Linked DNA regions of Homo sapiens. The protein of the gene in region 4 purifies or fractionates together with the protein of the main gene of each other region. This does not show direct contact. Each region holds a gene or a part of one and is shown on either strand. Other genes may lie near its edges.

Region 1 (3,500 bases), on a different chromosome or scaffold from region 4:
GCATTGTTGCAGTAATAATTTGAAAGGAATCTTTTTTCTGAGCAATGGGCTTAAAATATTCAGTCAACCATGCTATAAACAGATGTACTATCATCCAGGCTTTTTTGTTCATTTACAGAGCATAGGCAGAGTAGATTTAGCATAATTCCTAAGGGCTCTAGGATTTTGAGAATGGTAAATGACCTCATCCTAAAGTCACCAGCTGCATTAGTCCCCAACAAGAGTCAGCTTGTCGTTTGAAGCTTTGACGCCAGGCATTGACTTCTCTAGCTACGAATGTCCTGGACGGCATCTTCCAATGTAAGGCTGTTTTGTCAGCATTGAAAATCTGTGGTTTAGTGTAGCCACCTTCATCGATGATCTTATGTAGATCTTCTGGATAACGTGCTGCAGCTTCTATATTAGCATTTGCTGCTTCACTGTGTACTATTATATTAAGAAGATGGCTTCTTTCCTTAAAGCTCATGAACTAACCACGGCTAGCTTCAGACTTTTCTTCTGCATCTCACCTCTCTCAGCCTTCATATAATTGAAGAGAGTTAGGGCATTGCTCTGGATTAAGCTTTGACTTAAGGGAATACAGTTTGATCTAATCCAGACCAGTAAAACTCTGTATTATCAGCAATAAGTCTGTCTTGCTTTCATATCATTTATGTGTTCAGTGGAGTAGCACTATTAGTTTTCTTCAAGAACTGCACTGGTGCAAGAGGCCTAGCTTTTGACCTGTATCCGTTTTTAACATGCCTTCCTGACTTCCTTAGAAGCTTAATCCTTTCTAGCTTCTGATTTAAAGTGAGAGACATGAGACTCTTCCTTTCACTTGTATACTTAGGGGCCATTGTCGGGTTATTCATTAGCTTAATTTCAATATTGTTGTGTCTCAGGAGTAGGAATATCCAAAGAGAGGGAGAAAGACTTGGGGAGCAGCTGGTCAGTGGAACACTCAGGACAGAAACAGCATTTCTTTTTTTTTAATTAATTTATATTAAAGACAGGGTCTTGCTCTGTTTCCCAGGCTGGAGTGGAGTGGTGCAGACATACCTTATTGCAGCCTTGAACTCCTGGGCCCAAGCGATTCTTCTCCCTCCGCTTCCCAAGTAGCTAGGACTATAGGCACATGACTCCATGCCTGGCTAATTTTTTATTTTTTGTACAAATGGAGGTCTCACTATGTTGCCCAGACTGGTCTTGAACTCCTGGCCTCAGGTGATCCTCTCACCTCAGCCCAGCATGCTGGGATTGCAGATGTGAGCCACTGCACCCAGCCCAGATTTTTTATATATTGTGTTGTCAGTGGTAAAGATGATAGAGAATGTCTCATTCTGCTGATAGGAGTATAAATTGATACAACCACTTAGGAAAGAATCAAGGAATATCTGGTAATATTGAAAAACCCCACAGTTTTTAATCACATTCACAAAGGTATTCTTTATAAAGACTGGAAACGATCTAAGTGTCCATCTTTAGGGAAATGGGTAAAGTATGACAGAGTCATGATGAGACCACTATACAGCCATTACGGAATGAACTAGATCCATACGTCAACATAGCACAACTGAAGGGCAAAATAGAGTGTGAACAAGCAAGTTTCAAGATTTCTTTAAGGTATTTTAATTTTTTAAGCAGAAAAATACTATGTAGTGCTTATGATTGTGGTTTCCAGAGTGGGAGAGAGTGAGGGAATTGGTCTTGGAAGGGTACGAAAAGATCTTCAACTTTATTTGCCATTTTAAAAAATTGTGGTCAAATGTATATAACATAAAATTTATATATATATATATATATATATATATATATATATATATATATTTTAGACAGTCTCGCTGTGTCGCCCAGGCTGGAGTGCAGTGGCATGATCTTGGCTCACTGTAACCTCCGCCTCTTGGGTTCAAGCGATTCTCCTGCCTCAGCCTCCGTGGTAGCTGGGATTACAGGCGTGCGCCACCATGCTTGGCTAATTTTTGTATTTTCAGTAGAGACCATGGTTTCACCCTGTTGGCCAGGCTGGTCTCAAACTCCTGACCTCAAGTGATCCGCCCACCTCGGCCTCCCAAAGTGCTGGGATTACAGGTGTGAGCCACTGCGCCCGGCCCAAATTTATCATTTTCTTAAGTGTGCAGTTAAGTGGCATTCAGCAACCATCACCAACATTCAGCTCCGGAACTTTTCTATCTTCTCCCACCTGAAATTCTGTACCTGTTAAACAATGGCTGCTCATTCTCCCCTCCCCTCAGCCTTTGGCAACTGCCATTCTCTTTTCAGTCTCTACAAATTTGACTACTCCAGGTACCTCATAAGTAGAATCATACAATATTTGTCCCTTTGTGACTGGCTTATTATCCTTAGCATAATGTCCTCAGGGTTCATCTGTGTTGTAACATGTGACCAGATTTCACTCCTTTTAAGGTTGAATTATTTGCTGGTTTTTAAAAAAATTTTGAATTTTAGTTGGTTAATATGTGGAGTTTTGTTATATTATTGTTCGCACCTTTTATACTTCAGAAATTTTCTTTCCAAAGGAATTGGTTGATAGAAGATTATAAGGGAAAGCTTACTATCCTGATTCAGATGATTTACTCTAGTTTATTTTCCGATTCAGTGTGACCGCAACAAGGGAAAACATGGCTTATACTGTGGAATGCCTGCGGGGTGATGTGTAAGTACCTGTGTGTGTTTAGGACTTCTGCTTTGAAAGAAATACTAAGCTGCTCACTTCTGGTCTTTGTAATGCGTCATTATGACCTCTGACTTCCATTTTGGATTATTGTTCATAAACTGCTCAAAAACACTGCTTACCACAAGACCTAAAGTTTCACATTGAGAGCATTACAGCTATGTAGAATCTCAAATGTTGGCTTTACATTTTTGACTCATAATTCTTATCTCGATGTCTTCTGTAGTGATATTCTAATGGAGTTCCTGCTCAATGTCACCACAGCACCAGAATTTCGTCGTTGGGAAGTAGCTGACCTTCAGCCTCAGCTAAAGATTGACAAAGCTGTGGCCTTTCAGAATCCGCAGACTCGTAAGTACATTTCCAGATCACATTTGATTCTAAGATACTGGGTTTTTTAGAAGATCAATTTATAGAAGAAAAAAAATTGCTGTCAAAATTTTTATTTTTATTTTTATTTATTTATTGTTTTGAGACAGAGTCTCACTCTGTCACCCAGGCTGGAGTGCAGTGGCACGATCTTGGCTCACTGCAACCTCCAGCTCCCGGGTTCAAGCAATTCTCCTGCCTCAGCCTCCTGAGCAGCTGGAATTATAGGTGTGCACCACCACACCTGGCTAATTTTTTGTATTTTTAGTAGAAACAGGGTTTTGCCATGTTGGTCAGACTGGAGTTCAGTCTTGAATTCCTGGCCTCAAGTGATCCACCCACCTCAGCCTCCCAAAGTGCTGGTGTTACAGGTGTGAGCCACCATGCCTGGCCAAATGTTTTACTCCTTGAATTTGAAAATATCTTTTTCAAAAATTTGTTATTTAGATTTATTATT
Region 2 (2,437 bases), on a different chromosome or scaffold from region 4:
GAAGCGGTGACAAACATTCCTTACAATCTGGAGTCTTTGTTTTTCTCTCTCTCTAAAAGAAATGTTTGGTATATTAACCATTGATTTTCCCTTAATTGCTGGGGGACCAGGCCTGAAGCTCTGAAGAACCCCTGAAACCATGAATTGGCCATTCTTATTCTGGAAGATGCAATTTTGAGGTTTGCATGCGCCAAGGTTTTGAGGGTTTACGTCGTTATAATAGCTTTTTCCCCCCAGTCTCCCTGTCATGGCATTTACAACAGCTTTACAAGATGTAATTCATATAACAGTCACCCATTTAAAGTGTATGCTCCAGTGGTTTTTAGTATATTCATTGAGTTTTGTCATTAGCACCACAGTCAGTTCTAGAACATTCTCATCACCCATATTTACATTTATTTTTAATAACTCTCATGTGTAAGCTGAGTGTTTTAAACTTTAGAGACTTCTGGGGGGTGCTGAACTTGATAAAAATATTCAGTATACAAGTGTTCTTTATAGTTCACTCATCATTTTCATAGAATTAGGGTTTTAAAATTAGAAAGTAATTTAGGCCATTTCCATCTCCTGTCCCTCAAATCCCAGCTCAGTTTTGGGATGAGGTGTCAAGTATAAGTTTGTAAGTATGCCAGTCATTTGCACGGCTAAGAGAAACATCTAGAGAAGTCTATATACGACTTGCTTAAAGCTGAATGTTGATTTACTGTTCACATGATTTGGGTGATTTTAGTCACTGGGACTGAGCTAATGGAGTTGAAGCATTGTTGCGGGCATTGTACCTCCAGACCAGTGTGTAATACAAAGAGTTCTTGCAGACATAGGACAGAATTGGAGAAACAGCTTCTAACAGTGGGAAGACTCTCAGTACAACCAAGCTATTCCTTACCTTTCTGATTTCTGAACTTTTTTCCATGTGATACCTGCTGCTTTGAAGGCACTAAAATAACAGAAGCAGATAGAGCAGAAATCCTCACTCAGATCTTCCTCCTTCCTACCTGTATAACAGTTTGTGGCTTGCCTTGTCTGTTTTGTGCGTTTCGTTACGCGTATGTGAGTATGTGCACGTGATTTCCAGAAAGGAGAAGCGCACGATACTGCCCGTGCTCTGTGACTCCTGAGTGCACGCTTCCTCTGCATTTGGGCTCCTAGGTCGGCCTCGTCCTGTGGACGTTGCCCCTTGTTTCGTGCCATCCACACATTCCTGATGCCCCGCTGCTCTACTCTTTCTCCAGAGTACTTTTTCCAAACATGTGATTTGCACATTTGTTATGTTTATTGTTTGTTTTCCACTTCTAGAAGTGTGCCACTAGGCAGGAATGTTTGATTTGTTCACTGATGATCCCAGATCTCTAGAACCCTGCCTTGCCTGTAGAGGGTGCTTGGTAAATGTGCTCTGAATGAATGGCTCCATGATCCTCGTTTCTAAGAGCTAGCACGATTTCTCACTCAGTCCTGGTTGGACACAGGTTCCCTGGAACAGTGCTGTTGTGGTTATCTTCTCACGTGTCTTTGTTTCTGAACTTGAAACGCTTTGAGTTTTTTATTGTTTTTGTTCTTCCTCATTAGTTTGAGTCCCTTGCAGATAGGCTTTCATTTTGTCCAGTCACCTGTTCAGGGAGCCCTGAGGGCCTTGGCCCACGTCTGCAGGTAACTGGTTTTTTTATTTTTATTTTTTTATTTTGAGACGAAGTCTCGCTCTGTCACCAGGCTGGAGTGCAGCGGTGCGATCTCAGCTCACTGCAACCTCCGCCTCCTGCGTTCAAGCGATTCTCCTGCCTCAGCCTTCCGAGTAGCTGGGACTATAGGCACGTGCCGCCACGCCCGGCTAATTTTTTGTATTTTTAGTAGAGACGGGGTTTCACCATGTTAGCCAGGATGGTCTCGATCTCCTGACATCGTGATCCGCCTGCCTGGGCCTCCCAAAGTGCTGGGATTACAGGTGTGAGCCACCGCGCCCAGCCCTGCAGGTAACTGTTAATGTAGGAAGTGCTGCCTCTGGGCACCTTGGCCCCAGGGTTCATTAGCAGTTGCCCCTGGTGGGTTTTTGTTGGCTGTGATGAGAAGTGCTTCTGTTCCCCCTCCACCACACTCCTGCAACTGTTTAAACAGTGGCTGTGACCCCCTGAGATGATCCAGGGTTTCAAGGCGTGCACATGTCTGTGTTTCGGTTTTCAGAAGTATCACCTTGGGGTGACTCTCAACTTACATGGATTTTCAAAGATTTATTCAATATGTTTTTCAGAAAGTGTTGTGAAGAGCGAAGACTTTTCGCTCCCAGCTTATATGGATCGGCGTGACCACCCCTTGCCGGAGGTGGCCCATGTCAAGCACCTGTCTGCCAGCCAGAAGGCATTGAAGGAGAAGGAGAAGGCCTCCTGGAGCAGCCTCTCCATGGATGAGAAAGTCGAGTGTGGGTATTGAAGGGACCCACAGGCGC
Region 3 (2,249 bases), on a different chromosome or scaffold from region 4:
GCTCTGCAGTTTGCAAACCACAGCCTCTTCTGCTTCTGCCTTTTGCCAAGATGATATTGACCTTCAGTGACCTCTTTCTTGTGCCAGCCCACATTCCCCTTTTGCATTGCCTACATGACACCTGTATAAAAATATCCATGGACAGGAGATACTGCATCTATTCAGGGTCTGGATTCAGCTTACTGTTGTTACAAATAAGTAAGTTTGGTAATATATAGTTACATAAATTACTCCTAATTCCTACTTCTTCCTTCATATCTCAAAGGAATATTTAGATGCCATCAAGAAATTTTACCAGACCAGTGTGGAATCTACTGATTTTGCAAATGCTCCAGAAGAAAGTCGAAAGAAGATTAACTCCTGGGTGGAAAGTCAAACGAATGGTAGGAGAGCCACCCATTATAGAAACACCTTTGAGAAACCTATGCCAGTGAGCCTTGTGCTTGACACTGCATGGGGGAACAGGTGTGGGGATTGAGATGGGTTTGCAGGGAGGGCTGAAGAGGGCACTCCAGATGAAGGATTTGTCCAAATGAATATGAAGAGAGCCTAGGGGAGCCAAGGAGGAAATCACAGGAAGCCAATTAGATGGAAACACATCTGGAGAATTATTTGCTTATGGCCCTGCATGACAATAGCTTTGTGGATCCCCTGTCTCCGCTCAGGCCTATTTTGAGATCATATCCTTTACTTTAAATCAGACTCAAATTTTTATGATGAATATTTAATAGAAAACATTAGAAAGCGTCTCTCGTCTCCTTTACTAATTGGGAAACAAGCAGCTCTCTGGTAAATCACCCTTTTGTCTCTGAGCTGGAGCTGCCTGGATCACATCTGTAGCCAATGTGTTCTGCAGGGATTATCACAGCTCTCTTCCCCATCAAGGGCAAAGAGCTTGACAAAGTCTCCATTCTACAGACATCTTTCTTACCTCCCACCTCTCATTACAGGCCAAACTTACAGCAACTCAACATGAGAGTGAATAGGAAGATACCCCCGGAAGTAGTGTCTGACAGCACAGGACATGCGTTTCATATTACAGAGCTCAAGTCACTCATCCTAAAATGCAATCAGGGCCTCCTTCCTCTGAATGGGGACCCCGTAGTTAAAAAAAAATAAAAGTAGGAAGAGGAGGGAGGGAGAAAGGAAAGACACATGTTGGAAGAGTAGACAAAATCAGTTTATCAGTATTCCAAATCAGATGATTGGAGACATTCATACACAGAGAACGTGAACTCCTTCTCTATCACAAGAAGTGATGTCTCCATCAAGGGTAACTTTATACGACTGGAGCCTTGAAGAAAGCTGCATCTGGTGAACCACTGGTCAGTGAGTCTAACAATTCAAAGATCAAAGTCAGTGAGTCTCAAGCAGGGATTTGGGTCAATAATTAACGATCAGTCACGAACATTTGCAAAGCATCTTCCAGACAAGCCATTTGTAGCTTGTGTAAAAGACTCTTTTATTCTTTCCCTTGCAGAAAAAATTAAAAACCTATTTCCTGATGGGACTATTGGCAATGATACGACACTGGTTCTTGTGAACGCAATCTATTTCAAAGGGCAGTGGGAGAATAAATTTAAAAAAGAAAACACTAAAGAGGAAAAATTTTGGCCAAACAAGGTATTGTCTATATTTTATTTATATAGTGTAATATGTTAATACATGGAATGTTAAACATTTCTGATGGAATGTAACATGATAAGTAAAAAATAAAAATTGTTCATGTCTGTTATTTTGTTGTTTTACTCTTATAACTTTATTTAGTTAGGAATACCTGAAAAACTATTGTTTCTAACTCATGGAATTCCTGGGTTATTTCTTAGAAGAAGAAGGATGTGTTGCTATCTCAATAATATTATCTTTTTTGTCTTGTGTTTCACGTGTTATTTGTTGGACACATTGATTTATTGCAGAATACATACAAATCTGTACAGATGATGAGGCAATACAATTCCTTTAATTTTGCCTTGCTGGAGGATGTACAGGCCAAGGTCCTGGAAATACCATACAAAGGCAAAGATCTAAGCATGATTGTGCTGCTGCCAAATGAAATCGATGGTCTGCAGAAGGTAAGAACTTGCATCTACAACTCTTCCTTCTACTGCCGGACATTTTTCCAAAGATACCAAGTTTAAACAAGGTAAAAGCTTATGACCGAGTTGCCTCAAAATGATGAAAAATTCTAAATGAGGAATGATGACTCACCTTCATATTACAAATATTTGAGCATAGGGCCTGACACAAAC
Region 4 (3,927 bases):
GTGGGTCACACCTGTAATCCCAGCACTTTGGGAGGCTGAGGCAGGCAGATCACCTGAGGTCAGGAGTTTGAGACCAGCCTGGCCAATATGGTGAAACCCCGTCTCTACTAAAAATACAAAAGTTAGCCGGGGGTGGTGGCAGGCCCCTGTAATCCCAGCTACTTGGGAGGCTGACGCAGGAGAATCACTTGAACCCGAGAGGCGGAGGTTGCAGTGAGCTGAGATCGCGCCACTGCACTCCAGCCTGGGTGACAAGAGCGAGATTGTCTCAAAAAAAAAAAAATCATAACGGTAACGTCCTATACCTCAAGGGACTGTGGTAAGAATTAAAAGGGTGAAATCAATGTGTAAACTATGAAGCCCAATAGAAATAAGGTGTTATACAGACAATTGCACTATTGAATCTCCGGAGACAGAGTTGAGTTAAGGAAAAATGCACTTTCGGAAAGCTTTGGCGACTGAACGACCTGAGTTCTCCAACGCCAAGGCTGGAAGTTTGGAGACCTTGAAACAAGTAAATTACCATTAATATCATAATTTTCAGTTTCCTTTTAAGAAATGAGAGTAACACCACTTTCTTCACAGAATCAAGTGAGAGAGAACCTATGCAAAGGAACTTATCACTTGGTAGGTATTTGAAGCTCCCTCTGCCTGAAAACTACTTATTCAAAGACTGCAACAAAAGGTGTTCACAGTGTGGTATCTTTCAAAACATACGCTAAGGCAAGGAACAGATAAGGAAATGGAAGTACATCCAATTGGGATCCAAGCAACCCAAGTGGGAACCAACAGCTAGACTTGGAGATGTCTTAGCTCACTCTTAACCACGTGAGGGTAGGGTATCCAACCAATAAAGACATTCAGAGTTGGAGAGCGGGCGAGTGGAGTGTCCTTTAGACTCCGCGGACTCGACGGGAGGGACCCTGCAATGCTTAATTAGAACCGGTTGCCATGGCGACAGTCTCTAGGCAGCGTGGGCTGAGCTCTCCGTAGGAATAAAGGGTGGGCCGCCGCTGGACCCTGCGCGCGCCCGCCACCAACTTTCCCTCCAGATCCGAGAGGGGCGGCGCGCTCCGCCCCCGGGCCGCGCACGTCGGTGCTCGGCGGCGCGCACGCCTGCGGGAGCCCTCTCCAGGCAACCTAGTGCTGATCGCTCGTGCCGGTGCGGCCGTTAACCGCCCTTGCCGGAGCCCTAGGCTCAAAAGCAGCCCCTTACCCTTCCTGGGCTTCCCCCAACCCCTTTCCCGGTCTGCCCTGGGGCATGAGCAGCGATGGCCGGCTGCATCCCTGAGGAGAAAACTTACCGGCGCTTCCTGGAGCTATTCCTGGGCGAGTTTCGCGGACCGTGCGGCGGCGGCGAGCCGGAGCCGGAACCCGAACCCGAACCCGAACCCGAACCCGAGTCCGAGCCCGAGCCCGAACCTGAACTGGTAGAAGCTGAGGCGGCCGAGGCTTCGGTAGAGGAACCCGGGGAGGAGGCGGCCACGGTAGCCGCGACGGAGGAGGGGGACCAGGAGCAAGACCCGGAGCCCGAGGAGGAGGCGGCGGTTGAGGGTGAGGAGGAGGAGGAGGGCGCGGCGACGGCGGCGGCAGCCCCGGGGCACTCGGCCGTGCCGCCGCCGCCGCCCCAGCTGCCGCCTTTGCCCCCGCTCCCGCGACCGCTGTCAGAGCGCATCACCCGCGAGGAGGTGGAGGGCGAAAGCCTGGACCTGTGCCTGCAGCAGCTCTACAAATAGTTAAGTAGCTGGGCTTGGCTGGTGGTGGGCCCGCGGTCCCCACCGCGCCGGCCTCGGACGCGGCTCCCTCGGCCCCTCAAACTGCTCTCTTTTCTGCTCCTCTCCCCCGCACCCGCGCCTGCCGCCGCTGAAAGCGCCCCCGCTGCTCGGACCCGGGCGGTCGGCTGAGAGCTGCCCACGCCCGCCTCGGCCCCCACGCCCGCCTCGGCCCCCACGCCTCCTACCCGGCCTTGAAGCCGCTCTCCTGAGCCCCGGCGCCCTCCCGCCGGGCCCGGGCCCCTCATCCCCTTTCACCTCGGCCCCCAGCTTCTAGCTCCACTTCACGCAACCTTTCCCTTTCCTGCCTGGAAAGGTCCTTCCTCCCAGGCTTGAGCTCCCTCTTCTTCCCAGATCCCTTCTTTCTCCGGGAGGTTTCCTCCCACCCCAGTCTGTCTTTTCCCGGGCTGAGTGCCTTGTTGTTTGGCGGCAGAGACGCGACTCCTTTCTAGACTGAGCTGCGAGGTGCCTCCTGCGTAACTGCAACAATGATGGTTATACCGGCCCCGTATCCAGATGAGAGAATGGAGTAGATTTTCCGTCAGGTGCTCAGTGTTGAAAGTGAAGGGCTTTTTAGATGTTTTCACACAGGGAAGCCTAGTCTCTTAGTTTAGACATTTGACATTCCATAATTGAGGGAAGTGGGAAGGAATTGAGAGGGAAGGGTAAGCAAAATTTTGCAAGCAAGCCTTCGGGTGAAAGAGCCATAATTCATTAAAGTGGAAAAGTCAGGCTGTTTTGATTAAATTGCAATTAGGTGCAGTATTTTCAGTCCATTAAGTAGATGGGATGGGGTGGGGAGAAAGCAGATGGCTTAGCTACACAGATGAAAGTCTAAAATAGAAAGGTCAAGGCTTTGCCTTTCATCCCAGTTCTGGTTTTTATAGGCCTGAAATAGAAACGGTTTACAATTGCGTTTCTCAATGGAATTGTTCCGAAATAATGACAGAGGAGAATACTAGTAAGTCTCTGAAAACATTGGTAAACCTGGGAAGTCTTTTGCCATTCAGCTGATAGTTGTAATGAAAGGTGTTACTCTGGCCACCCAAAAAGTTTACTACTGCAAGATTCGCTGTAATTAAGTTCAAACTCACTTTTGGGATTTTCTCAAAAGCCTAAAGAAAAGAAGGGCCTGGAAAGTAAACCTGTTTTGTCTTCATCCAAGCTAATAGACACCTGATCAGATCATTCTCCTGTTAAAGCAGCAGTTTATCAATAGGGGAAAATCATTTAACAAATCTTCCATAGAAGTGGACTGTGTTGGTATTTCATAATATAAGCTATCTAAAATTTAATTTTAAAATACTGTTCAATTACAGTATTACCGTCAATTAGCAAGGTAATGATGCTTTTTGAGAAACGTAAAATATAAAATGGCGTGTAATACCACCACCCAGAGATAAACAGTATTAACATTTTAGAGTATATCTGGTCTTTGTGAACTATCATAGACAAGGGCTTCTGAGATGTAATTTTTTACAGTATTTAAAGATAAAGCTCCCTGCTTAAAATAAAATGGAAATGTTTATTAAGGGAATTTATCTTAGCAGCAGACTGGCTCTATCTTGACAGTTAATTCTTACCTTTACAAATGCAGTTTGCAGAATTAAACCAATTCAAACTTTAGAAAGTGTCCAAATAAGGTCATTATTTTAGTACAACCCTGAACATTTGCCATGTAAGAAGGTTTTTTTTTTTTAACTTATTTAAAGATGATGGCAAGAAGATGTGTGTTTTTTCATATAGAAGCGGCCAGGAGCGGTAGCTCACTCCCGTAATCCCAGCTCTTTGGGAGGCCGGGGTGGCAGATCATGAGGTCAGGAGTTCGAGACCAGCCTGACCAACGTGGTGAAACTGCGTCTCTACTAAAAATACAAAAATTAGCTGGGCGTGGTGTCGCGCGCCTGTAATCCCAGATACTCAGGAGGCTGAGGCAGGAGAATCGCTTGAACCCGAGAGGCAGAGGTTGCAGTGAGCTGAGATTGTGCCAGTGCACTCCAGCCTGGGTGACAGAGCAAGACTCCGTCTCAAAAAAAAAAAAAAAGATTAATTTTGATATAGGTATAAACTAGAAAAAACTGAAATGATAAAATGGCCATCTAGTTGAGAACAGAAGTTTGGATTTGAAATAAAACTAGCAAAATTAAAGTTGGAA
Region 5 (3,301 bases), on a different chromosome or scaffold from region 4:
GGCACCAGACGGTCTGTGAGGTCTCTTCCCTCCAGCTTCCCTAAACTCCCACATGTGAGACTGTAGAGAACAGACACCATGCAACCCGGAGCTGGCTGACCTTGGGTTGAGCAGGGATTTTTGGTGCCCAGAGAGGCTGCAGGACTAGTGACACTGAGTCCTACCAGCTTGAGGGAAGCTGGCCTGGGACCTGGGCCCGTGCCTGCTCAGGGATTCTTGGACCCCCCGCCCGGCCTCTAGGAGTGGAAGGTGGTGCTTCAGCTGCAGCAGAACTCCCTGGGCATCTGCTGGGAGACCACAGTCCTAGTGTGATGTCGGAAGTAATGAACTATTAAGGGTGACACGATGGGGCTTTACATTTAACTTTTGGTAGAAAAAGGCCACCCTGGGTAAGGTAGATTTTCTTTTTTCTAGAAGGTTTAACTGTACATACTATTACCATGCAGCTAAATGTTGAACTTGAGGAATCTGTAAACAGCAGGCTCATTAAGATATTTTTGTATCGTTTTTAGTGAAGAAGCATACAGTAAATGCTTTCATTCTTCTCCTGTGTTTTTTGATCTCCTGCCTTTTATTGTCTTTTGTGGAAGTGGCTTTGAACCTTTAGGAGATGAGCAGCGCCTGTGGTCTCTGCCCTGCCATACTGTCTGGCACACAGTAGCTGTTTGTTCAGTTAACTTGTCCCCACCAGGACAGTTGGGGTGGCAGGGGAACCAAACCCCAAAGTCTCTGTACCTCTAAAAACCTTGCCACTTTCCAAGATTCTCAGACCTCTGTAGCCAGGCTGCTTCTCCTAGAAATCTGCTATTTTGATAAAAGCAATTTTGGCCATATTACCAATAAGTGTTTTTTTTTTCCCCCTTTGGAAGCTAGACCTTCTTACTTTATTTTTTTATTATTATTTTTAATAAAAATGTAGAGACAGATCTTACTTCATTGTCCAGGCTGGTCTCAAACTCCTGGTCTCAAGCAGTCCTCCCTCCACAGGCTCCCAAAGTGCTGGGATTCTGGGACTAGCTAGACATTGTTAATGGTGAGAGATTACTCCCAAAGTAGTTGGGAGCAGTTACTCCCACATCGCCGGAGGGCCCATTTGTTGATCTGAGAATCATTTGTACTGCTTGTTTCACCTTACTGCTTCTTGTCTGAAATGAGGTTGGCCAAGCATGTTCAGAAGTTATTTTCCCTATTTAGATGCTGGTGGCTGGTGCCCTTTGTATCAAAGTCACAAGGCACTCGCTGACCCTGAGGAGCCCACAGGGGCTGGAGCAGCATGCTCCCTCACAGGCTGAGATGAGGAGATTAGGCATCCTGCCTCTGAGCCAGCTGCTGTGGGGCACGAGGCACCAGTGCACAGGTGCCCCGACTGTGAGTCACTTTCTTCTTGCTGTAGCCTTAATGATCTTGTTTGCTTCCCTTTTGGTTGTGGTGTTGCCCTTCAGCATGCTTTGGAGTTTGAGACACTAAAACGAGCCTTTCGTGTGAAACTGGTCCTAGAACTTAGTAGCACTGTGGTTCCAGCTTCATCTTTCCCAACTCCGCTGACCTCATATGCGACATGGGGTCCACCTACTTGGTTGTTGACGGACGCCACCCCTCTTTCCCTCGGCACCTGTGCCTGTCCTCTCTGAACCTGCCACTGCCATCGTCGTGAAGAATCAGAAGCCCGGAAGCCAGAAGTGTGGCTGGCCTGCGGGGGGTGGAGAAGCTGCAGTGTGCCCTTTGCTTTTCTTTTAGGACTCCATCCCCGTGTCTACCTCCCTCCTTGGAGACACTTCCGACACGACCTCTACTGGCCTTGCCCAGCGCCTAGGTATGTACCCACAGCTGGCGCTGCATGGCCAGCCAGGTGGGGCCCACTCTTTAATGGAACCATGAAGCAAGTCCCTTCGGAAGTAAAGCATCTTTATGCTAAGAACCATCACCTCATTGCTGCTGGGAAGCACAGACCTTTGCACGTTGGGTCTTATTTAAGGGGCACATTCCATGCTCGCCTGTCATCACCACCGTCCCAGGGCTGGCCTGTTCCCAAAGGACTCCCACCTCGTCCTTGGGTGTGTCCTTGAGTCCATGAGCTGATTTAGTTGCCTTCCGTAAGTGCATCACCACCTCCTGGGAGGAGAGCATGAGAAGTGCCCACAGCCCCTGTGGGTGGTGGCTCAAGGTAGCCTCCCGGGCCTTAGGAGGAGTCAGTGCAGCTGGTGGAGCAGGTGTCACCTCTGTGCAGGAAGGACTGTCCTCACTCAGTGTGATACCGTTCAGGGCTCGGAGGGAAGACTGGCCTGGCCTGTGAGTGTGGCGTAGAGTGGGGATTAAGCAAAGGTCATGAGGCTGAATGCTCCACTCTTCCCACACCCCAACACACTTCCTGTGGGCCAGGTAAGGCTTCCATGTGCTCTGCGACCCCCAGCCCCAGTGCCTGTGGCCAGTGTGCACAGGATGCCTGTCTCCTGCCCAGGCCTGGCGTTCTCCAGTAGGCCCAGCTGCTTCTGCTCTGGAGTCTTCTCTGTGTCTCAGGCACAGGACCTGGTACCTGACAAGCAGGAACCTCTGTGTCAGTCACACTGAGGCAAATGCACACGAATAGCATGGCACCTGGCCCAGGGGGAAGGCAGGGCAGGGTGGAGTGTCACCAGCAGGCCCATGACAGTATGTGGATAGGACAGAGGTCAGGGAGGGCACAGGTCAGCATTTCAGGAACTCGCAGTATTCTTTTTCCCTCCCTTGGAGGTGGGGACCTGACTTGTAAGTTAATTTGGTAATTTTTAACTAGGAAGTAAATTTAAAATTTACAGAAAAGTTGCAAAGAAGATAGAATTCCTGCTTAGCTTTTGCCCCAATTTCCCACTTGCCACCCTTCCCTCTTTGTGTTTGTATCTTTTTTTTTCTGAGCCACATGAAAGTAAAGCTGCCTTTTGTGTCTGTGTCACTCTGTGTGTGTGACTGTGTAAGGGGTAGCACACTTACATGGAACAGGTTACTGCGTGTGGGAGAAGGCTCAGGAAGGTATTCATATTTATACAGACGGAAAGCTGGGTGGGGTTGCGGACACACTCCCATAGAGAAGGTGGTGTGAGCTTGTCTGGCAGGCCGTGAATAACTTTCATATCAATAAGGTAAATTAGTCTCCAGAATATTTGCGAGATGGAGGCCTAGTATCTATATGCAAAAAAGAGGGGTTCTCAGTATCTCGACTGTCTCAACAAGTCACGGGTGTGCCGTGGCTTCCGGCGTCTCTTAAGGGAATGGTGCTGCAGAGCTCGGACCAAGAAGGTTTTCCAGCAAAGTCCCATGCTTTGCC
Region 6 (3,500 bases), on a different chromosome or scaffold from region 4:
AGAAGAAATGCAATGAGTACAAAAAAATAGTGATAGAGGATGAATAAAATATAGTACTTGATAGCCGAACAGGGTGACTATAATAATTCAATTGTATATTTAAAAATAACTAAAAGAGTATAACTGGATTGTTTGCAACACAAAGAATAAATGCTTGAGGTGATGGATACCTCATTTACCCTAATGTGATTATTACACATTGTATGCCTGTATCAAAATAACTCAAATATCCCATAAATATATACCTACTACTAATATATACCCACAAAAATTAAAAATTAAAAAAAGAAGAAATGCAGCTGGGCATGGTGCCTCACACTTGTAATCCTAGCACTTTGGGAGGCCGAGGCAGGTGGATCACCTGAGGTCGGGAGTTCGAGACCAGCCTGGCCAACATGGTGAAACCCCGTCTCTACTAAAAATACAAAAATTAGCTGGGCGTGGTGGCACGTGCCTGTAATCCCAGCTACTTGGGAGGCTGAGGCAGGAGAGTCACTTGAACCTAAGGGGCGGAGGTTGCAGTGAGCTGAGATCGCACCACTTCACTCCAGCCTGGGCAAAAGAGTGAGACTCCGTCTCAAAACAAAAAAAAAGAAAAAAAAAAAAGAAATGCAAATGGCTGATAAATCCACCCTGTTAGTAATTTAAGGAATGCAAAGTAAAGCAATAATGAGACATCATTTTTTTCACCAATGACATGTCTAAGAATGATAATACTAAGTATATTGCTTGGAATATGGATAAATGGACATTGTGTTATGTTTCTGGTAGGAACATAATAGGCATAACCTTTTGTGGGATATGGCTATATATATGTTTTAAAAACCTTGAAAAATCTGTCTACCTAATAATTCTATTTCTAGATATTTATTTTTTATTTTTATGTTACTTTTTTCAATTAATACACAATAATTTTACATATTTATAGGATACATGTGATGTTTTGATACATACATACAATGTGTAATGATCAAATCAGGGTATTTGGGATATATATCATGTCAAACATTTATTATTTCTTTGTGTTAGGAGCACTTCAGATCTTCTAGCTATTTTGAAATATGCAATAAATTATTGTTAACTATAGCTACCTCACTGTGTTATTAAACATGAATAATGTATTCCTTCTATCTAACTGTATGTTTGTACCCATTAATCAACTTCTCTTCACCCCTCCTGCCCCTTCCCATCACTCTACTCTCTACCTCCAGGAGATCAACTTTTTTCCCCCTTTTTATTTAGAAATGGAGGTCTCATTATATTGCCCAGGCTGGCTTCTAATTTCTGGGCTCAAGTGATCCTCCTACCTCGGCTTCCTGAGTAGCTGGGAGTACAGGCTAGATGTTCCATCCATGTTGTTGTAAATGACAGGATTTCATTCTTTTTTTTTTTTTTCTCCCTAGACGGAGTCTCGCTCTGTTGCCCAAGCTGGAGTGCAGTGGTGAGATCTGGGTTCACCGCAACCTCCGCCTCCTGGGTTCAAGCGATTCTCCTGCCTCAGCCTCCGGAGCAGCTGGGAATACAGGTGCATGCCACCACGCCTGGCTAATTTTTTGTATTTTTTAGTAGAGACGGGGTTTCACCATGTTAGCCAGGATGGTCTCGATCTCCTGACCTGATCGGCCCGCCTCCACCTCCCAAAGTGCTGGGATTATAGGCATGAGCCATCGCGCCTGACCCATTCTTTTTTTTAATGGCTGAACGGTATTTCATTGTGTATATACACCACATTTTCTTTATCCAGTCATCCATTGACAGACACTTAGGTTGATTCCATATCTTGGCTATTGTGAATGCTGCTGCAATAAACATGGGGCTGTAGGTATCTCTTTGATATACTGATTTTTTTTCCTTTGGATAAATACCCAGTAGTGGGATTGCTGGATCATATGGTAGTTTTATTTTTAATTTTTTGAGAAGCCTCTGTACAGTTTTTCTTTCTTTTTTTGAGACAGGATCTCACTGTGTTGCCTAGGCTGTAGTGTAGTAGTAAGAACACTGTTTCTTGCAGGCTCACACTTTAGGGCTCAAGGGATCTTCCCACCTTGGTGTCACTGGGACTACAGGCACCCACCACCACACCCAGCTAATTTTTAAATTTTTCAGAGAAGAAGGATCTTGCTATGTTGCCCAGGCTGCCCTCAAACTCTTGGCCTCAAGTGATCCTCCTGCTTCAGCCTTCCAAAGTGCTGGAATTACAGCTATGAGCCAGCGTACCCAGCCCATACTGTTTTTCATAATGGCTGTACTAATTTACATTCCCACCAACAGTGTATAAGAGTCCTCTTTCTCGCCAGGCGTCGTGGCTCACGCCTGTAATCCCGGCACTTTGGGAGGCCGAGGCAGGTGGATCACCTGAGGTCAGGAGTTCGAGACCAGCTTGGCCAACATGGCAAAATCCCGTCTCTACTAAAAACAAAAAATTAGCTGGGCGTGGTGGCATGTGCCTGTAATCCCAGCTACTCAGGAGGCTGAGGCAGGAGAACTGCTTGAACCCGGGAGGCAGAGGTTGCAGTAAGCTGAGCTCGTGCCACTGCACTCCAGCCTGGGTGACAAGAGCGAAAATCTATCTAAAAAGAAAAAAAAAAAAAGAGGCCTCTTTTGCTACATCCTCACCAGCATTTGTTATTTTTTATCCGTTTGGTGATAGCTATTGTAACTGGGGTGAGATGGTATCTCATTGTGGTTTTTATTTGCATTTCCCTGATGATTAATGATGTTGAGCATTAAAAAAAATACCTTTTGGTCATTTGTATGTCTTCTTTTGAGAAATGTCTATTCAGATTCTTTGCCCACTTTTTAATGGAACTATTTGTTTCTTTGCTGTTGAGTTGTTTGAGTTTCTCATACATTCTAGATATTAGTCCCTTGTTGGATGACTAGTTGGCAAATATTTTCTCCCTTTATACAGGTTGTGTCTTTGTTGATTGTTTTAAAGAAATAATTATAGGCAGCAGTATGGATTTATGTGTAAGCAGGGTAATTACACTGTAGTTTATAATAGTGGAAAATTAGAAACAACCTAAATAGCCAATAATAGCCAATTTGTAAAATTGTGAAGCATCTACGTAATTATAGAAAATTATTTACATGGAAACATTTTTATTATACTTCATCACACTATTCAAAATAAATGTTTTATTTTCTTTGTTCTTTCATCCACCCATTTATTCTATCCGTTAACAGTTTATTCTATTCATTGCTCCTTGCTATTCCACTCCTTTGGGTTTATTTTCTTTATTGTTGAAATATTCCTTTAAGTACTTTTAATGAGGGGCTTGGTAATAAACTCTCTTAGTCCTTGTATGTCTGAAAATGATTATTTTGCTTTCATTTTAAATGATAATTTACCTGGGAATATACCAACTCTCTCAGCACTTTGAAGGTATTTCTGTCTTTTAATATCTTGCTTTTAAAAGCAATATATTATTGCTTTGTCAGTCTTTTATGTCTCATTTTTTTAATGATTCTTGTTCTTTAATGTTTTGCAATTTCCCTTC
Region 7 (3,500 bases), on a different chromosome or scaffold from region 4:
TGAGTAGCTGGGATTACAGGGGCCCGCCACCACACCTGGTTAATTTTTGTATTTTTAGTAGAGACAAGGTTTCACCATGTTGGTCAGTCTGGTCTCAAACTCCTGACCTCAGGTGATCCACTCACCTTGGCCTCCCAAAGTGCTGGGATTACAGGTGTGTGCCACTGTGCCTGGCTAAAGTAAGATTAAAAAAAAAAAATCAAAAGCCAGTTTTACATTTTTGTTTCCCTTCACGATTGAATGGCTTGATCTGAGACTGAGGAAATCCAGGCACGCTTCCATTTCGGCATTTCAAGTGTGTAGAACATTGCAGTGTTGAAATATGTAGAACATGTCATTCCTGGGCCTGGGATGGTGTCTCCTTGTTGGAAGGACAGTTCTTTCCCTCAACACTGCACTTTATGTATGGAAGGGGTGTGTAGTTTGTCAGGTCTGAGCTTGGGCCTGGCCAGGCATGCAGCTGGTGTTTAGTCTGCAGTGGACTTATCTTCACATGCATCTGTCATGTTTGGCCTTAGGTGCAGAAAAGCCCTGTGTTCCGGAGGGACGGCGCAGACATCCACTCCGACCTCTTTATTTCTATAGCTCAGGCTCTTCTTGGGGGTACAGCCAGAGCCCAGGGCCTGTACGAGACGATCAACGTGACGGTAAGAGGGTGTGAGAACACCTTTGTCACCCCTGTACTTTATTGCTCTTTTTCTGAAATGGAAAAGAACTGACCAGTGGCCTGGAACCCATGAGTGACCAGCATGTGGGGGGGCACTCACAGGGGAGGACATGAGGAATTTTAGGCTGCTCCTTGAGTGTGGACCACAAGCCACAGGCCTTGAGTCTATAATCGCATGGGAAGCAGTTCCTGGCTGGCATCACTCCCACACTGGTTAGCGGGGCCTGGGAACTGGGCGCATTCAGGACACAGAAGGGTTCACCCTGGGTTGTGCTCTCTGCACTTGCTTCTGTCCAGTGTCTGGCTCCAAGAGCAGAAGACTCGGGCGGTGCATATCCCTTTTGCCACAGTGATGGCTGCCTGTGTGCTGCCAGCACCTGTCCCCCACCTCTCTCTTGACCTGCCCCTCCAGCTCTTCCCACCTCCAGGCCACATCATTCTCTGTATTCGCCTCAGAACCTTCTCCAGCTTCTTTGTGGGGAACCTTGGGGTAACCTCCATGAAGGAGGTGGGCATTTTGGGCCAAGGCTTTCTCCTCCATCTGGGGGCTATTCCCTGGCTTCTCCAGGGTCCTGTGGTTCCAAGGGCCAGGGAGCGACCTCAGCCACGCACCCTGTATTGGCTTTTCCTGCTTTGCTCCCTCACTCCTGCTTCCTGGGCTCACTTGCCCAAACTCTTGCCCCCTCATCCTAGTCACAGGCTCTGCTCTGGGCAGACCCAACTTAGCTCATTTCCATGTGCTTGTGGGCGGGCTTGGCCCAGAAACCCAAGTGGTGGTTCTTTTTTTTTTTTTGAGATGGAGTCTCGCTTTGTCGTCAGGTGCACGCCACCACACCTGGCTAATTTTTTGTATTTTAGTAGAGACAGGGTTTCACCGTATTTCCCAGGCTGGTCTTCAACTCCTGATCTCAGGCAGTTCACCCGCCTCGGCCTCCCAAAGTGCTGGGATTAAAAGGCGTGAGCCACTGCGCCCAGCCCAGTGGCAGTTCTTTTTTTTTTTTTTTTTTTTTTTTGAGACAGAGTCTTGCTCTGTCGCCAGGCTGGAGTGCAGTAGCGCGATCTTGGCTCGTGGCAATCTCCGCCTCCCAGGTTCAAGCGATTCCCACCTCAGCCTCCTGAGTACCTGGGCCTACAAGCACGCGCCACCATGCCTGGCTAATTTTTTGTATTTTAGTAGCGATGGGGTTTCACCATGTTGGCCAGGAAGGTCTCAATCACCTGACCTCGTGATCTGCCTGCCTCAGCCCCCCAAAGTGCTGGGATTACAGGCATGAGCCACTGCGCCCGGCCTTTTTTTTTACCCACCCCCTCCACCACCGCTCTGCCGAGACAGAGTCTTGCTCTGTCAGCCAGAGCTGGAGTGCAATGGCACAATCTTGGCTCACTGCAACCTCCGCCTCCCGGGTTCAAGCAATTCTCCTACCTCAGCCTCCTGAGTAGCTGAGATTACAGGTGCACGTTACCATGCCCTGCTGATTTTTGTATTTTTAGTAGAGACGGGGTTTCATCATGTTGGCCAGGCAGGTCTTGAACTCCTGACCTCGTGATCAGCCTGCCTCGACCTCCCAAAGTGATGGGAGCGTGAGCCAGTGGTAGTTCTTTTCAAGGAATTCCTATCAAGATTGTCTTCATGTAGTGAAAACTTTTTATTTGAGCAACTGGGGACCAGGGGAAACCACAGATTTTCTTTCTTTATAGATCCCCCCTGGGACTCAGACAGACCAGAAGATTCGGATGGGTGGGAAAGGCATCCCCCGGATTAACAGCTACGGCTACGGAGACCACTACATCCACATCAAGATACGAGTTCCAAAGTAAGTGCCCCCTAGGCTGTGGCCAAGCCCGCCTGGTCCTGCGGTGGCACTGCCCTTGGAGCTCTGTGGCTTGGGCAGGTTACTGCTCCCTGTAAGTCAGGTGGTTCCTGCCCGAGTTATCTGTCTGTAAAGTGGACATAGTAGAATGGTCAACTTCTTTTTTTTTGAGATGGAGTCTCGCTGTGTCCCCCAGGCTGGAGTGCAGTGGCGCCATCTCGGCTCACTGCAACCTCCGCTTCCCAGGTTCAAGCGATTCTCCTGCCTCAGCCTCCCGAGTAGCTGGGATTACAGGTGCCTGCCACCATGCCCGGCTAATTTTTTGTATTTTTAGTAGAGATGGGGTTTCACCGTGTTAGCCAGAGTGGCCTCAATCTCCTGACCTAGTGATCCACCCACCTTGGCCTCCCAAAGTGTTGGGATTACAGGCGTGAGCCACCATGCCCGGCCAGAATGGTCGACTTCTTGGAGTTGTTGGGAGAATTAAATGAACAACACATAGGAATTGCTTTGCTGCTGCTGCTATTGTTGATTTTCTTCTTTTTTTTTTGAGAAGGAATCTGTCACTGTGTTGCCCAGGCTGGAATGTGGTGGTGCCATTTCAGCTCACTGCAACCTCCTCCTCCCCAGTTCAAATGATTCTCCTGCCTCAGCCTCCCGAGTAGCTGGGACTACAGGCGCTTACCACCACGCCCAGCTAATTTTTGTATTTTTAGTAGAGACGGAGTTTCACTGGCCAGGCTAATCTCGAACTCCTGACCTCAGGTGATCTGCCCACCTTGACTTCCCAAAGTGGTGGGATTACAGGTGTGAGCCAGCACGCCTGGCCCGTTGCTTTTCTTGTTGATGTTACTAGCACTGTTAGGAGCTGGAGAGGTGGCCTGGGCAGAGTGCTGTGGGTACCTAGGGCGGGACATGCCTGACTCCCCTCGGGAGCACTCATGCTTTTTGTTAATTAGATAATTTCTTTTTTTTTTTTTGAGATGGTGTCTAGCTCTGTCTCTAGGTGGAGTTCAGTGGTG

What was found.
Region 1: the proteins of PPM1E (region 4) and UQCRC2 purify together in Homo sapiens (affinity purification with mass spectrometry; one large-scale study listed by BioGRID and IntAct). This does not show direct contact.
Region 2: the proteins of PPM1E (region 4) and COX4I1 purify together in Homo sapiens (affinity purification with mass spectrometry; one large-scale study listed by BioGRID and IntAct). This does not show direct contact.
Region 3: the proteins of PPM1E (region 4) and SERPINB4 purify together in Homo sapiens (affinity purification with mass spectrometry; 2 studies listed by BioGRID and IntAct, with this or other methods). This does not show direct contact.
Region 5: the proteins of PPM1E (region 4) and PSMG4 purify together in Homo sapiens (affinity purification with mass spectrometry; 2 studies listed by BioGRID and IntAct, with this or other methods). This does not show direct contact.
Region 6: the proteins of PPM1E (region 4) and STX17 purify together in Homo sapiens (affinity purification with mass spectrometry; one large-scale study listed by BioGRID and IntAct). This does not show direct contact.
Region 7: the proteins of PPM1E (region 4) and DNAJA3 purify together in Homo sapiens (affinity purification with mass spectrometry; one large-scale study listed by BioGRID and IntAct). This does not show direct contact.

What each region holds. Positions count from the first base shown.
Region 1 is NC_000016.10:21,959,861-21,963,360, forward strand, and holds part of UQCRC2 (cytochrome b-c1 complex subunit 2, mitochondrial precursor), read left to right. Parts: intron 1-2,599; coding exon 2,600-2,656; intron 2,657-2,900; coding exon 2,901-3,025; intron 3,026-3,500. UniProt on the Homo sapiens protein: Component of the ubiquinol-cytochrome c oxidoreductase, a multisubunit transmembrane complex that is part of the mitochondrial electron transport chain which drives oxidative phosphorylation.
Region 2 is NC_000016.10:85,802,695-85,805,131, forward strand, and holds part of COX4I1 (cytochrome c oxidase subunit 4 isoform 1, mitochondrial isoform 1 precursor), read left to right. Parts: intron 1-2,242; coding exon 2,243-2,410; coding exon of another isoform or gene 2,411-2,437. UniProt on the Homo sapiens protein: Component of the cytochrome c oxidase, the last enzyme in the mitochondrial electron transport chain which drives oxidative phosphorylation.
Region 3 is NC_000018.10:63,639,008-63,641,256, reverse strand, and holds part of SERPINB4 (serpin B4), read left to right. Parts: intron 1-265; coding exon 266-383; intron 384-1,480; coding exon 1,481-1,623; intron 1,624-1,916; coding exon 1,917-2,072; intron 2,073-2,249. UniProt on the Homo sapiens protein: May act as a protease inhibitor to modulate the host immune response against tumor cells.
Region 4 is NC_000017.11:58,754,727-58,758,653, forward strand, and holds the start of PPM1E (protein phosphatase 1E), read left to right. Parts: upstream 1-1,127; 5' UTR 1,128-1,271; coding exon 1,272-1,735; intron 1,736-3,927. UniProt on the Homo sapiens protein: Protein phosphatase that inactivates multifunctional CaM kinases such as CAMK4 and CAMK2. Dephosphorylates and inactivates PAK. May play a role in the inhibition of actin fiber stress breakdown and in morphological changes driven by TNK2/CDC42.
Region 5 is NC_000006.12:3,261,947-3,265,247, forward strand, and holds part of PSMG4 (proteasome assembly chaperone 4), read left to right. Parts: intron 1-1,737; coding exon 1,738-1,813; coding exon of another isoform or gene 1,814-1,878; exon of another isoform or gene 1,879-2,227; coding exon of another isoform or gene 2,228-2,379; exon of another isoform or gene 2,380-3,301. UniProt on the Homo sapiens protein: Chaperone protein which promotes assembly of the 20S proteasome.
Region 6 is NC_000009.12:99,909,654-99,913,153, forward strand, and holds part of STX17 (syntaxin-17), read left to right. Parts: intron 1-2,502; exon of another isoform or gene 2,503-3,500. UniProt on the Homo sapiens protein: SNAREs, soluble N-ethylmaleimide-sensitive factor-attachment protein receptors, are essential proteins for fusion of cellular membranes.
Region 7 is NC_000016.10:4,446,368-4,449,867, forward strand, and holds part of DNAJA3 (dnaJ homolog subfamily A member 3, mitochondrial), read left to right. Parts: intron 1-518; coding exon 519-647; intron 648-2,365; coding exon 2,366-2,481; intron 2,482-3,500. UniProt on the Homo sapiens protein: Modulates apoptotic signal transduction or effector structures within the mitochondrial matrix. Affect cytochrome C release from the mitochondria and caspase 3 activation, but not caspase 8 activation.